Linked DNA regions of Homo sapiens. The protein of the gene in region 1 interacts with the protein of each later gene in a biochemical or structural test. Each region holds a gene or a part of one and is shown in the gene's direction. Other genes may lie near its edges.

Region 1 (7,022 bases):
CAACGCAGGCCCTGGTGCTTCCCATGTGGAAAGTCACCTAATTCTCATGAGATCCTCCAGAGTTGGCACCATTATTATCACCATTTTACAGCTGGGGAAACAGACAAAGACAGCTCAAATAACTTGCCCAACAGCACATCGTGGGTACATAATGAAGCAATACAGTGTTTAATCCTGTATTGCTCTAGTCCCAGTGCCTGGAGCAGGGCTGGCACATAAAAAGCCTTCAGTAAATGTTAGGTAAATGCATGTGTGTATCTGTGCTTGTGTCTACGGATGGACAGGTGGATGGGTAGATGGGGGGATGAGTGGAGGCTTGGTGAATACATGCGGGCTTGATGGTGGCTGAGAGGATGTGTGGGTGGATGGATGAGTGCATATACAAGTGGGTGGATGGATGGATGGGGGAGTGGATGGATGGATGAGTGGGCAGACGGGTGGGTGGGTGGATGATGGATGGATGAACAAGTGCATGGATGAATGATAGATGGATGAATAGGTGGATGCACGATGGAGGGATGTATGGATGGATGAACGGGAAGATGCGTGGGTGGGTGGATGGTGAATGGATGAATGCATGGATGGATGATGGATGGATGAGTAGGTGGATGGATGATGGAGGGATGAGTGGATGGATGGATGATGGATGGATGAGGGATGGATGGATGAGTAGGTGGATGGATGATGGAGGGATGCATTGATAGATGAGTGGATGGATGTATGGATGGATGGATGGATGAGTGGGTGGATGGATGAGTGGGTGGATGGATGATAGATGGTGGGTGGATGATGGAGGGATGGATGGATAGGTGGATGGATGGGTGGATGGATTGATGAGTGGGTGGATGGATGAGTGGGTGGATGGATGAGTGGGTGGATGGATGATGGACGGTGAGTGGATGGATGGATGGATTATGGAGGGATGGATGGATGGGTGGATGGATGGATGAGTAGGTGGATGGATGGAGGGATGCATTGATAGATGAGTGGATGGATGGATGAGTGGGTGGATGGATGAGTGGATGGATGATGGAGGGATGGATGGATGGGTGGACAGATGGATGTGTGGGTGGATGGATGACTGGATGGATGGTGGGTGATGTAGGTATTGATGAATGACTGGATGGATGGATGATGAATGGCTCCATGATGGATAGATGGATGGATGGGGGTGATGGACGGATGGATGAGTGGGTGGATGGATAGATGAATGGATGAATGGATGGGTAAATGGTAGGTGGATGGATGAATGGGTGGGTGGGTGGATGAATAACTGGATGGATGGATGTGTGGATGGGTGGGTGGGTGGACGGATTGGTGGATGGATGGTGGGCAGATGGATGGATGGATGAATGGGTGAATGGATGGGTCAATGGTAGGTGGATGGATGAATGGGTGGGTGGGCGGATGGACAGATGGATGATAGATAGATGGCTAGTGGGTAGCTGGATGATGAAAGATGAATGGGATACCATTAAACCAGTTAGTTAACTTACCCCTAGAGCACCCATCTCTATAGATTGGCGGGGGTTGCTCTGAATCCCTCATCACATCGAGGTTCCGTCTGGTCCTTTCTCAGACGAAAACAGACACCCAGAAGCTGGGCCATGGGTGGGGAGGATCTCCCTGAGAAGGTACATTTGATCAGAAACTCAAGGCAGGAGGTAATAAAGATCTGGGGGCAGCGTGGGGCAGAGAGCACAACCAGTGCAAAGGCCCCGAGACAGGATTGAGTACATGAAAGGCACTCAGCTTGGCCAGCTCACCTCTTCTTTCTGCACTTCTGGTCCCTAGGATTACAAGAAGTTCTGGGCAGGCCTGCAGGGTCTCACCATTTATTTCTACAATAGCAATCGGGACTTCCAGGTAAGGATGGGAATGGAGGCTCCAGAGCAGGCCTTCCCTTGAGCCCAGAGACCAAGCAGACAATGTAGATGGTGTGGTCAAGGTGGCTGCTACATCATCCAGGGGGCCTGGAGGCCAAGGAACTGGTGCCCAGATCCCCTGCTTCTATGCCCCCAGCACGTGGAGAAGCTCAACTTGGGAGCATTTGAGAAACTCACAGATGAGATTCCCTGGGGAAGCTCACGTGACCCTGGCACCCACTTCAGCCTGATTCTCCGGGATCAGGAGATCAAGTTCAAGGTAGGTCCCTTGCTGGAGGGGTGCAGAGGGGCGGTGCTTGCAGAAGATGCTCAAATGCTCCTACCCTCCATTGTGCCAACCACGAAGGGGCAGGTAGTACAGGGCCCTGTGGGCCCTGGGTAAGACTTGGGTCTTGACCCCAAAGGAGCTGGGTGCTATGGGAGGGTTTATTTTATTTTATTTTATTACTTTTTTTTTGAGACCAAGTCTCGCCCTGTCACCCAGGCTGGAGTGCAATGGCACGATCTTGGCTCACTGCAACCTCCACCTCCCAGGTTCAAGTGATTCTCCTGCCTCAGCCTCCCAAGTAGCTGGGATTACAGGCGCACGCAACCACTCCTGGCTAATTTTTTGAATCTTTAGTAGAGATGGGGTTTCACCATGTTGGCCATGCTGGCCTGGAACTCCTCACCTCAGGTGATCCACCCACCTCGGCTTCCCAAACTGCTGGAATTATAGGCGTGAGCCACCGTGTCCAGCCGAGGGTTTATTTTTTATTTTTATTTTTTGAGTTTCGCTCTTATCACCCAGGCTGGAGTGCAGTAGTGCAATCTTGGCTCACTACAACCTCTGCCTCCCAGGTTTAAGTGATTCTCCTGCCTCAGCCTCCCGAGTAGCTGGGATTACAGGCGTGTGCCACCACGCACAGCTAATTTTTGTATTTTTGGTAGAGACAGGGTTTCACCATGTTGGCCAGGCTGGTCTCGAACTCCTGACCTCAAGTGATCCACCCACCTCGGCCTCCCAAAGTGCTGGGATTACAGGCATGAGTCACGGTGGCTGGCCTATGGGAGGGTTTAGAGCATGAGAGGTCTGGGAACTGATCTATGTTTTTCTATTATTTTATTTTATTTATTATTTTATTTTGAGACAGGGTCTTGCTCGTCGCCCAGGCTGGAGTGCAGTAGTGAGATCATAGCTCACTGCAGCCTCGACCTCCCGGGCTCAAGCGATCGATCCTCCTACCTCAGCCAAGCACATGCCACTATGCCTGGCTAATATTTTATTTTTTTGTAGAGACAGGGGGCTCGCTATGTTACCCAGTCTGGTCTTGAACCCCTAGGCTCAAGTGATCCTCCCGCCTCGACCTCCCAAAGTGCTGGGATTACAGGCGTGAGTGAGCCACTGCATCCAGCCTGATCTATGTTTTTCAAATGTTGATATAATAACATCAAAAATCATAATATCAGCCAGGCATGGTGGCTCATGCCTGTAATCTGAGCACTTTGGGACGCCAAGGCAGAAGGATAGCTTGGGCCCAGGAGTTCAAGACCAGCCTGGCAACAAAGCGAGACCCTCATGTCTAAGAGAAAAAAAAAAAAGCTGGGCGAGGTGGTGCATGCCTGTAGTCCCAGCTACTCAGGAGGCTGAGGCAGGAGAATCGCTTGAACCTGGGAGGTGGAGGTTGCAGTGAGCTGAGATCGCGCCACTGTACTCTAGCCTGGGCGACAGAAGAATGAGACTCCATCTCAAAAAAAAAAAAAAAAAAAAAAAAAAGAAGAAAAAGAAAAAAGAAAACGGCCCTTTGAAGCAGGGACTCTTCCCTAGTCCAATTTCATTGATGAGTAGACTGAGGCTCACTGACTTGGATTCTTTCCTTTCTTTTGTTCCCCAGGTAGAGACCTTGGAGTGTCGGGAAATGTGGAAAGGCTTCATCTTAACGGTGGTGGAGGTAAGAGTAGTGGCTCTCTGCGCCCTCTCTCCCATTCTCCAGATCTCCTCAAAAAGCCTCCTTTTTCTTTCTTTCTTTTTTTCTTTTTTTGAGACGGAGTCTCGCTCTGTCGCCCAGGCTGGAGTGCAGTGGTGCGATCTCGGCTCACTGCAAGCTCCGCCTCCCGGGTTCACGCCATTCTCGTGCCTCAGCCTCCGGAGTAGCTGGGATTACAGAAGCCCGCCACCACGCCCGGCTAATTTTTTTGTATTTTAGTAGAGACGGGGTTTCACTGTGTTAGCCAGGATGGTCTCTGTCTCCTGAACTCGTGATCCACCCGCCTCAGCCTCCCAAAGTGCTGGGATTACAGGCGTGAGCCACCGGGCCCGGCCAAAATTTTGTTTTATTTTTTTGAGACAGAGTCTCACTCTGTTGCCCAGGCTGGAGTGCAATGGCACGTTCTCAGCTCACTGCAACCTCTGCCTCCCCGGTTCAAGCAATTCTTGTGACTCAGCCTCCCGAGTAGCTGGGATTACAGGCGTCCGCCACCACGCCTGGCTAATTTTTGTATTTTTAGTATACATGGGGTTTCACCCTGTTGGCCAGGCTGGTCTTGAACTGACCTTGAGTCATCTGCCCGCCTTGGCCACTCAAAGTGCTGGGATTACAGGCGTGAGCCACAGCGACCAACCGTATTTCTTATTTTATTTTTTTGAGACAAGGTCTCTCTCTGTTGCCCAGGCTGGAGTGCAGTGGTGTGATCATAGCTCACTGCAGCCTCCAACTCCCAGGCTCAAGCAGTCCTCCTGCCTCAGCCTCCCAAGTAGCTGGGATACAGACACACACTACCACATCTGACTAATTTAAAAATTTTTTTGTAGAGCAGGGTCTCACTATGTTGCCCGGGCTGGTCTCCAACTTCCGTGCTCAAGCAATCCACCCTCCTTGGCCTCCCAAAGTGATAGGATTATAGATGTGAGCCACCATGCCTGGCCACAGAGTGCTAAGTTTTTAAAAATTAGCTGACATTGGCCAGGCGTGGTGGCTCACGCCTGTAATCCCAGCACTTTGGGAGGCCGAGGCTGGCAGATCATGAGGTCAGGAGATCAAGACCATCCTGGCCAACACGGTGAAACCCTGTCTCTACTAAAAATACAAAAATCAGCTGGGCGTGGTGGCGGGAGCCTGTAATTCCAGCTACTCGGGAGGCTGAGGCAGGAGAATGGCTTGAACCCGGGAGTCGGAGGTTGCAGTGAGCCAAGATCGCGCCACTGCACTCCAGCTTGGTGACAGAACTAAACTCCATCTCAAAAAAAAAAAAAAAAAAAAAATTAGCTGACATCATTTATCAACCGGGAATTTTAGTCTACCTTCCTGATTTCCCTCTGATTTCCCTGTTTCCTACCTCACCCTGGCAGGCCATTGAGTTTGAGACCTGCCTGGCCCCTGCAGACTTTAGTTTGAGACCCTAGATTCCAGCATCTACTTTTTTTTTTTTTTTTGGTGGGGTTGGGGAGCGGGGAACGGAGTCTCACTCTGTCACCCAGGCTGGAGTGCAATGGCGTGATCTTGGCTTACTGCAGCCTCCGCCTTCCCAGGTTCAAGTGATTCTCCTGCCCCAGCCTCCCGAGTAGCTGGGATTACAGGTGTCTGCCACCACGCCCGGCTAATTTTTTGTATTTTTAGTACAAACGGGGTTTCGCCATGTTGCCCAGGTTGGTCTCGAACTCCTGACCTTAGGTGATCCGCCCGCCTCGGCCTCCCAAAGTGCTGGGATTACAGGCGTGAGCCACCGCGCCCGGCCCCAGCATCTACTCTCATGCAACACTCCTCTGCAACCCTCTCGAAGCCCTCTTTGCCCTCTAAGGTGTCAGAGTTCATTGCTCTGAGCTCTGGCCTCAATTTGCCACTCTGTGACTTGGGCACAGCCGTCCATTCCCGGCTGGCCAGGTGCAGTCACTGTCCCTCGATCGCCCCTCAGCTCCGTGTCCCGACCGACTTGACCCTGCTTCCTGGGCACCTATACATGATGTCTGAAGTCTTGGCCAAAGAGGAGGCGCGCCGTGCACTGGAGACACCCTCGTGAGTGTCCCGCCTGTCCCGAGGGGCTGCAGGATGGGGACGGGAGGTGGTTGTGTGGCTGAGGGTGGGCGGTGAGTTGGGTCCCCTGGAGTTGGGTCTTGGATTTTGCATGAGGACTGCCTTGGGGCTGGGGGTGGGGGAGGGGGAGGGGGAGTTATGGCCCATGCTGGGGAGGCAGGGCAGGATCTCCAGGAGCGGGTCTAGGGGCCTAGAGGACTGGTAAGGTCTTCAGTGGCGGGGCCTAGGCCTGAGGAGTAGGGACAGGGTCTGGGGGTGGTCAGTCTAGGTGTCTAGAAGGTGATGCTTCGTCTCCGGGGAGGAGTTATTTGTCGGAGAGGGTAACCGGGACCCTAGAGGCGGGGCCTGGATGGGGGGCGGAGCATCGTCTTTGTGGGCGGTTCTTGGTGATCAGGGAGGCGGGCAGGGCCTCCAGGGTAAGGTCTAGGTGTTTGGAGGGCGGGACAGGATCTCCAGGGGAGGCTCTAGGTGCCTACGAGGCAGGGCTGGGTCTCCCTAGGGGTTGGAGCTGCATCTCCGGGGCCAGAATTAAGAGCCTGGCTGGCCGCGGTGGCTCGCGCCTGTCATCTCAGCGTTTTGGGAGGTCGAGGCGGGAGGATTGCTTTTACCCAGTTCGAGACCCATCCTGGGCAACATAGCGAGACCCCATCTCTAAAGAAAAAAAAAACCAAAAAACCCGGCCAGATGCAGTGGCTCACGCCTGTAATCCCAGCACCTTGGGAAGCCGAGGCGGGCGGATCACCTGAGGTAGGGAGTTTGAGACCAGCCTGACCAACATGGAGAAATCCCGTCTCTACTAAAAATACAAAAATTAGCCGGGCCTGTGAGGAAGGGGAATCGCTTGAACCCGGGAGGCGGAGGTTGCGGTGAGCCGAGATAGCGCCATTGCACTCCAGCCTGGGCAACAAGAGCGAAACCCTGTCTCAAAAAAAAAACAAAAAACCCCACAAAAACTAGGAGCCTGGAAGGCCGGACTGGGTCTCCGTGGGAGGGGCCTGGGTCTGGAGAGCAGGGCAGGGTCTCCTGGGCCTAGGGGATGGGGATGGGGCTGGGTCTCAGAGGAGGCAGGGTTTACGTGCAGAAGAGCGGACTTGGTCTCCGGGGTCCCGAGTGGGTGACGCGGCCC
Region 2 (7,489 bases), on another chromosome or scaffold:
TGGAGAAATATCTATTCAATGTTTTGCCTGTTTTTTAAAAAAATTATTTTAGACTCGGGAGTAGATGTGCATGTTTATTACATGGGTACATTGCATAATGGTGAATTTGGCTTCCAGTGTACCCAGTACCCAAATACTGAACACTGTACCCAATAGGTAATTTTTCACTTCCTTTTTGCCCTTTCCCCTTTCCTTCTATCCTTCCACTTTTGGAGTCTATTCTTTCCATCTTTATATCCGTGTGGACCCTTTGTTTGGCTTCCACTTATAAGTGAGGACATGCAATATTTGAATTTGCCTATTTTTAAATTTAATTGTTTTTTTGTTGTTGTAGGCAACACTACAACTTTCATTCTTTTTTAAAATTTATTTTCCCATAAATATTTATTAATTGTGAGGGACAATAGAGTGGCTTTAGCTACATATTGCGTGATTCTACATACATTCTTTAGCTACACACTGTATGATTCCATTTATATGACATTATCCTGTAAAGCACAAAGACATTGTGGAAAAGGCAAAACTGCAGGGATGGAGAACAGATCCGTGGTTGTTTGGTGTAAGGGGTTTGGGGAGGGCTTTACTATAAAGGAGCAGCATGAGAAACATTTTCTAGAGTGATGGAGCTGTTCTATATCTTGACTACAGTGGTGGTTACATTGTTATATATATTTGTCAAAACTCATAGAACTATGCACCAAGAGTGATTTTTGCTGAGGAAACACTACAACTTTCATTCTGTATATATTCTGGATATATTTATTTATTGTGGATATAAATATTCATTCTGTGTGTTTTTATTCTCTTGACAGTGTCCTTTGATGCACAAAAATGTTTAATTTTTATTATGTCCAATTTTTCTTTGGTTGCTTGTGCTTTTAGAAACATATCTGAGAAATCATTTCCAATTCCAAGGTCATGAATATTACCTTTATGGTTTCTTTTAAGGTTTTAATAATTTTAGCTTTTATATTTAGGTCTTTAATTCATTTTGAGTTAATTTTTATATGTGATGTAAAATAAGGATTCAACTTCATTCTTCTGCATGTGACTATCTAGTTCTTTTAGCACCTATGTTGAAAAAACTGGTCATTCTCCATTGGATGGTCCTGCCACCCTTGTTGAATATCAGTTGTCCATGAATGTGAGAGTTTACTTCCTGACTCTCAATTTTATTCTATTGATCCATATAGTTATTCTTATGCTGATACCACACTATTTTGATTTCTGTAGTTTTATAGTAGGTTTTGAAATTGAAAAGTGTGACTCCTCCAAGATTGTTTTGCATATTCAATGTCCCTCGAGATTCCATATGAATTTGAGAATCAGCTTTTCCATTTCTGCAGAAAAAGGCTGTTGGGATTTTGATAGGGATTATATTGACCCTATAAATCAGTCTCACTTTGAGAGTACCGCTGTCTTATTAAATCCTCCAACTTATGAAAACAAGGTGGTTTTTCATTTATTAAGGTCTTCTAAATTTCTTTCAACAGTGTTTTGTAGTTTTCATTGTAAAGTCATGCATCTCCTTAGTTTATTCCAAAATATTTTATTTTTGATACTATTGCAAATTAAATTGTTTTCTTAATTTCCTTATTGGAGTATTATCAGTACTATAGAGTTACGTATGTTGATCTTGTATCCTGCAGGTTTGCTGAATTTGTATATTAACTCTAATAGTTGCTTTTTGTAGATCTTTTAGGATTTATCTATATATAGGATCATGTCATCTGTGAACAGAGATAGTTTTACTTCTTCTTTTTTAATTTGGATGCCTTCTGTTTCTTTTTCTTCCTGATTGCTCTGGCTAGGACTTCCAGTACTATGTTGAACAGAAGTGGCGAGAACAGGCATCTTTGTCTTGTTCCTGATGTAAAGGGACCAGCTCTCAGTCTTTTACCATTGAATTAGTTGTGCTTTTTCACATGTGCCCTTAATCACGTTGAGGCTGTTCCCTTTTATTGCTAGTTTGTTGGGTGGGTTTTGTTTTGTTTTGTTTTTAATGAAAGCATGTTGGGTTTTACAGTTACATCAAGTGACATGATCATATGAGGATTTTTTTCATTCTATTAATGTGATGTATTACCCTGATTTTCATGTGTTAAACCACTGTTGTATTTCTTGGACAAATCCCACTTCATCATGGTATATAATCATTTTAATATGCTGTTAGATTTGGTTTGCTGGTGGCTGGGTGCAGTGGCTCACGCCTGTAATCCCAACACTTTGGGAGGCCAAGATGGGCAGACTGCTTGAGGTCAGGAGTTCAAGACTAGCCTGGCCAACATGGTGAAACCCTGTCTCTACTAAAAATACAAAAATTAGCTGGGCATGGTGGCGCATGCCTGTAATCCCAGCTACTCGGGAGTTTGAGGCACGAGAATAGCTTGAACGCGGGAGGCAGAGGTTGCAGTGAGCCGAGATTGCTCCACTGCACTCCAGCCTGAGTGACAGAGTGAGACCCTGTCTCAAAAAAGAAAGAAAGAAAGAAAAAAAAAAAAAGATTTGGTTTGCTAGTACATTTTTGAAAATTTTTGCTTTCTATATTCATGCATTTGTATTGGTCTGTAGTTATCTTTTCTGGCAATGTCTTGGTCTAGCTTTGGTACCAGAAAAATGCTGGCTTCATAGAATGAGTTGAAAAGGATTGGTATTAATTCTTCTTTAAATGTTTGGGAGAATTCACCAGTGAAGCCATCTGGTCCTGGGCTTTGCTTTGTCGGGAGGTTTTTGATTACTGATTAAATTTCTTTTCTTGTTATAGGTTTATTTGGATTTTCTTTTTCTTCTTGAGTCAGCTTTGATTGACATTCATGATTGCTAAAGGTTCAAAACACTTTTCTGAAAAAGAAAGTACATATATACACTCATAAATATACATACAAACACACACATACACACCACACACACACCTGAGTACACGGGAATGATCATTTTCCTGGATCAATGTTATATCAGGATTTTTCAATTTCAAGAAGGAACTTTAGGCTGGGTATAGTGGCTCATACCTATAATCCCAGTACTTTGGGAAGCCAAGGTATGCGAATCACTTGAGCTCAGGGGTTTGAGACCAGCCTGGACAACATGGTGAAACCCCATGTCTACCAAAAATACAGAAATTTGCTAGGAATGGTGGCACATGCCCCTGTAGTCCCAACTACTCAGGAGGATGAGGTAGGAGGATGGCTTGAGTCCGGGAGGTGGAGGTTGCAGTGAGCCGAGATCACACTACTGCACTCCAGCCTGGGTGACAGAACCAAACCCTGTCTCAGAAAAAAAAAAAGAAAAAAAGAAGAAGAAATGACCATGTTCTTTAGAGATAAGAAGTAAAATACTAAGCGAATCAACTAAAAGAGGTAAAAGCAATTGCCTCCAGGAAAAGAGGGAGCAAAGGAATGCTATATATTTTAAGAATTATGCAGAACAATTAGATTCTTTGTAAAAATAAATAAACAATGTAAGTAACGCACAAAAGATAGTTTTATAACCAGACTGCTGGGATCCAAATCCTATCTCCACCATTTGGTAGCTGTTTGACTATGGACAAGCTTAAGGCATTTGATCTCTCTGAGCTTTAGTTTTCCCATCTGTGAAATGAGAATGACAATAGTACTTACCTACATAAAGTTTTGCAGTACTAAAGGAGACAGTGAATGTAAAAGGTTTGGCTAGTAAATGTCCTGTAAAAGGAAGCTTATTGCCAATATTATCAGGCTCTCCCAGACCAACCTGTATACAGGAAGAAAACAAACTCCGTTTCTCCTATAGTCTCACAACACAAAATACTTCTGACCCCAGATGTAGAGGATGGGGCATATTTCCCCATACACCAAGCAATCAACCAATTGTTCAGATTCTGCAGCAGACACGAATCTGGTGCCCTCCGATTCAATTTGAACACTATATTTACCTAGAGATAACGTCAGATCTCACAGCTTGAAGGCTTGAGCCAGGAGTTTGAGGCTGCAGTGAGCTATGATCGAGCCACAGAGCTCCAGCCTGGGCAACAGAGTGAAACTGCGTCTCTAAAATAATAATAATAAATTTTTAAAAGATATGCATTACTTTGGAGATTCCAAGGATTTTAGGAGTTGTAAGCCAGGACATCAGGGTAAAGAAAAAATATATATGTCACAATATCATGCAACCTAACTTCTCTTTGGGATCTGCCAGAGCCACCTGATCACTCTGAAGACCCTCATTTGTGCTACTGACTAACGGTCTGGCTGCTCTTGGACATGTCTCTTCTCCCAAGACCCCTTGAAGATGGCTTTAGAAGGGCCCCAAACTTAGCTAGCTCCCCCCAAGCTCAGGCTGGCCCTGCCCCAGACTGCGACCCCTCCCTCTTGGGTTCAAGGCTTTGTTTTCTTCTTAAAGACCCAAGATTTCCAAACTCTGTGGTTGCCTTGCCTAGCTAAAAGGGGAAGAAGAGGATCAGCCCAAGGAGGAGGAAGAGGAAAACAAGACAAACAGCCAGTGCAGAGGAGAGGAACGTGTGTCCAGTGTCCCGATCCCTGCGGAGCTAGTAGCTGAGAGCTCTGTGCCCTGGGCACCTTGCAGCCCTGCACCTGCCTGCCACTTCCCCACCGAGGCCATGGGCCCAGGAGTTCTGCTGCTCCTGCTGGTGGCCACAGCTTGGCATGGTAAGAGCAGAACGGGGGGTGGGGGACTTTGTTGGGGTGTGATGGAGAAGACCCCTGTGAAAGGATTCAGTCCTTGCCCCTCACTGGGTGTCCTCAGGCTGTTTTAGTCTCCCCAACACTGGACTGCAGGCTTGTGGGTATCTGCTTTGGAGAGGTAGTGGGGTGAAAAGAGATGGGTGTGGTGGAACTGGTCCACCTGGTGCTGTGGATCTGTCCCAGCTCTGCCAGCGACTCACTGTGTGTCCTGAGCAAGCCTCTGATACTCTTGAGGCTTCAGTGTCCACTTCTATTCAATTGCAGGTGTTGGGGGCAGGGGGACAGTGATAGACTAGACCAGAGCAGTGCTTTTCATACTTTCCTGTGCATACAAGTTACCTGAGGATTTTGTTACAATGCAGATTCAGACTCAGTCGGTCTCAGGTGCGACCTGAGATTCTGTATATCCAACACACTCCTGGGAGATGTGAGATGCCGGCACTGCTGGTCCAGACCTACACTGAGTTGGGAGGACCTGGAGAGCTCCTGATGGCTCTGGCAGCTCTGCCAGCCTGTGATTCGATGATTCTATGCAAGATCTGATTTGGAAGGGCCTGATAGGGGTGGTGGTTCTTCCTTGGGTGGCTTGTGTAAGGGGTCAGAGGGGAGAGACAAGAGGTTGGCCTCTCTGGCCCAGGGCTCAGGAGAGGGGAATTCGGGGTGAAATAGGTATAGGGCTAGAGGAGGGATTGGGAAGAGGCCAGTGAGGGTCTCCTGGACCAGAGCCCTCCCAGACACAGGCTGCCAAGTCTCAGGAGGTCCCCAGGCTGTAGCAGTTCTGCAGAATTTCCATCTGGGAGGGAACATGACTAGAGGTGAGGGGCTGCTGTGCTTGGCTTGTTGGCCCAACAAACACATTTCTATTGCCTGCTTATTCAAAGGGACCTTGGGGGAGGATGGGGATTGAAGGGGAGAAAGGACAGCCTCATACTGGCCTCTTCACAGAAGGACCCTAAGGCCGTGGCGCTTCTGGTCCCTGATGAGGAGGAGATGGCCCACTGACCATCCTTCTCTGGCCCAGGCAATCACACTGAGCTTGAGTATTTGGGTTTTTTTTTTTTTTTTCCTGAGACAGAGTCTCTCTCTGTCACCAGGCTGGAGTACAGTGGCACAATCTCGGCTCACTGCAACCTCCACCTCCCGGGTTCAAGTGTTTCTCCTGTCTCAGCCTCCCAAGCTGGGATTACAGGCATACACCATCATGACTGGCTAATTTTTGTATTTTTAGTAGAGATGGGATTTCACCATGTTGGCCAAGCTGGTCTCGAACTCCTGACCTCAGGTGATCCACCTGCCTTGGCCTCCCAAAGTGTTGGGATTACTGGTGTGAGTCACGGCGCCCGGCCTGGACTTCTTATTTTGCAATGTAACTTACATGCAGTAGAAAGCACAGGTTCTTAAGTTCAATGAGGTCTGACAAATGCACACACAGTGTACCCGCCACCCCCTTCATCTCAGAGAGTCCCACAGGTTTGATTTCACTGCCTTGTCCTATCCTTACACCCACAACCTGCCTGTGGGGCAAAAACGGAAAAGTATCTGAGCCAGGTCTCAATTTAATTTTATTTTTTTTATTGAGATGGAGTCTTGTGGCCAGGCATGGTGGCTCACACCTGTAATCCCAGCACTCTGGGAGGCCGAGGCGGGTGGATCACAAGATCAGGAGTTTCAGACCAGCCTCGCCAATATGGTGAAGCCCCCTCTCTACTAAAAAATACAAAAATTAGCCGGGTGTGGTGGTGGGTTCCTGTAGTTCCAGCTACTCAGGAGGCTGAGGTGGGAGAATCACTTGAACCCGGGAGGCAGAGGTTGCAGTGAGCTGAGATCATGCCACTGCACTCCAGCCTAGGCGACAGAGCAAGACTCCATCTCCTTCCTTTCTTTCTTCCTTCCTTCCTTCCTTCCTTCCTTCCTTCCTTCCTTCCTTCCTTCCTTCCTTCCTTCCTTCCTTCTTTCTTTCTTTCTTTCTTTCTTTCTTTCTTTCTTTCTTTCTTTCTTTTTTCTATCTTTTTGAGACCGAGTCTTGCTCTGTTGCCCAGGCTGGAGTGCAATGGCATGGATCTCGGCTCACTGCAACCTCCGCCTCCGGGGTTCAAGCAATTCTGCCACTCCTGAGTAGCTGTGATTACTGGTGCCTGCCACCACACCCAGCTAATTTTTTTATTTTTGGTAGAGACAGGGTTTTATCATGCTGGCCATGCTGGTCTCGAACTCCTGAACTCAAGCGATCCCCCTGCCTTGGCGTCCCAAAGTGCTGGGATTACAGGCATGAGCCACTGTGCCTGGCTTCAATCAATTTAGAAGTTTATTTTGCCAAGGTTAAGGACATGCTGGCGAGAAAAAAACATGGAGTCACAAAAACATTCTGTGGTCTGTGCCATTCTGGATGAATTCGAGGGCTTTAATATTTAAAGGGGAAAGTGGGCTGGAGGGGAAAAGGGGAGGTTGTGGTAATCCACATGTTGCAAAAGAAAAGCAGCAGGTAGGGGAACAGTCAATTATCTCGGTTCAGTAAATTGGCTCTTTACATAGGGAAAGTGAACATAGAGGAGCTGCCTGTGGGATATTTTACCTTTTATCTGTCGCTATCTGCTTAGGAATAAAAGGCAAGGCAGCTTCTTGCATGACTCAGTTTCCAGCTTGATTTTTCCTTTTGGCAGAGTGAATTAGGGTCCCAAGTTTTTATTTTCCCTTCACAGGGGCATGGTGTGTGGGAGGGGGGCCAGATGGTTTTCCAGGGTCCAGTCCCAAGAGAAAGAAGAGATGGGGAGGCTGGAAACCTAAGTTTTCAGCCCAACAGACCAATGATG

What was found. The genes of interacting proteins can lie anywhere in the genome.
Region 2: the proteins of STAP2 (region 1) and CSF1R form a complex in vitro, tested with the Homo sapiens proteins (one study listed by BioGRID).

Annotation. Positions count from the first base shown.
Region 1 is NC_000019.10:4,328,817-4,335,838, reverse strand, and holds part of STAP2 (signal-transducing adaptor protein 2), read left to right. Parts: intron 1-1,794; coding exon 1,795-1,866; intron 1,867-2,022; coding exon 2,023-2,145; intron 2,146-3,760; coding exon 3,761-3,817; intron 3,818-5,777; coding exon 5,778-5,878; intron 5,879-7,022. UniProt on the Homo sapiens protein: Substrate of protein kinase PTK6. May play a regulatory role in the acute-phase response in systemic inflammation and may modulate STAT3 activity.
Region 2 is NC_000005.10:150,083,533-150,091,021, reverse strand, and holds the start of CSF1R (macrophage colony-stimulating factor 1 receptor isoform a precursor), read left to right. Parts: upstream 1-4,467; 5' UTR 4,468-4,594; coding exon 4,595-4,643; intron 4,644-7,489. UniProt on the Homo sapiens protein: Tyrosine-protein kinase that acts as a cell-surface receptor for CSF1 and IL34 and plays an essential role in the regulation of survival, proliferation and differentiation of hematopoietic precursor cells, especially mononuclear phagocytes, such as macrophages and monocytes.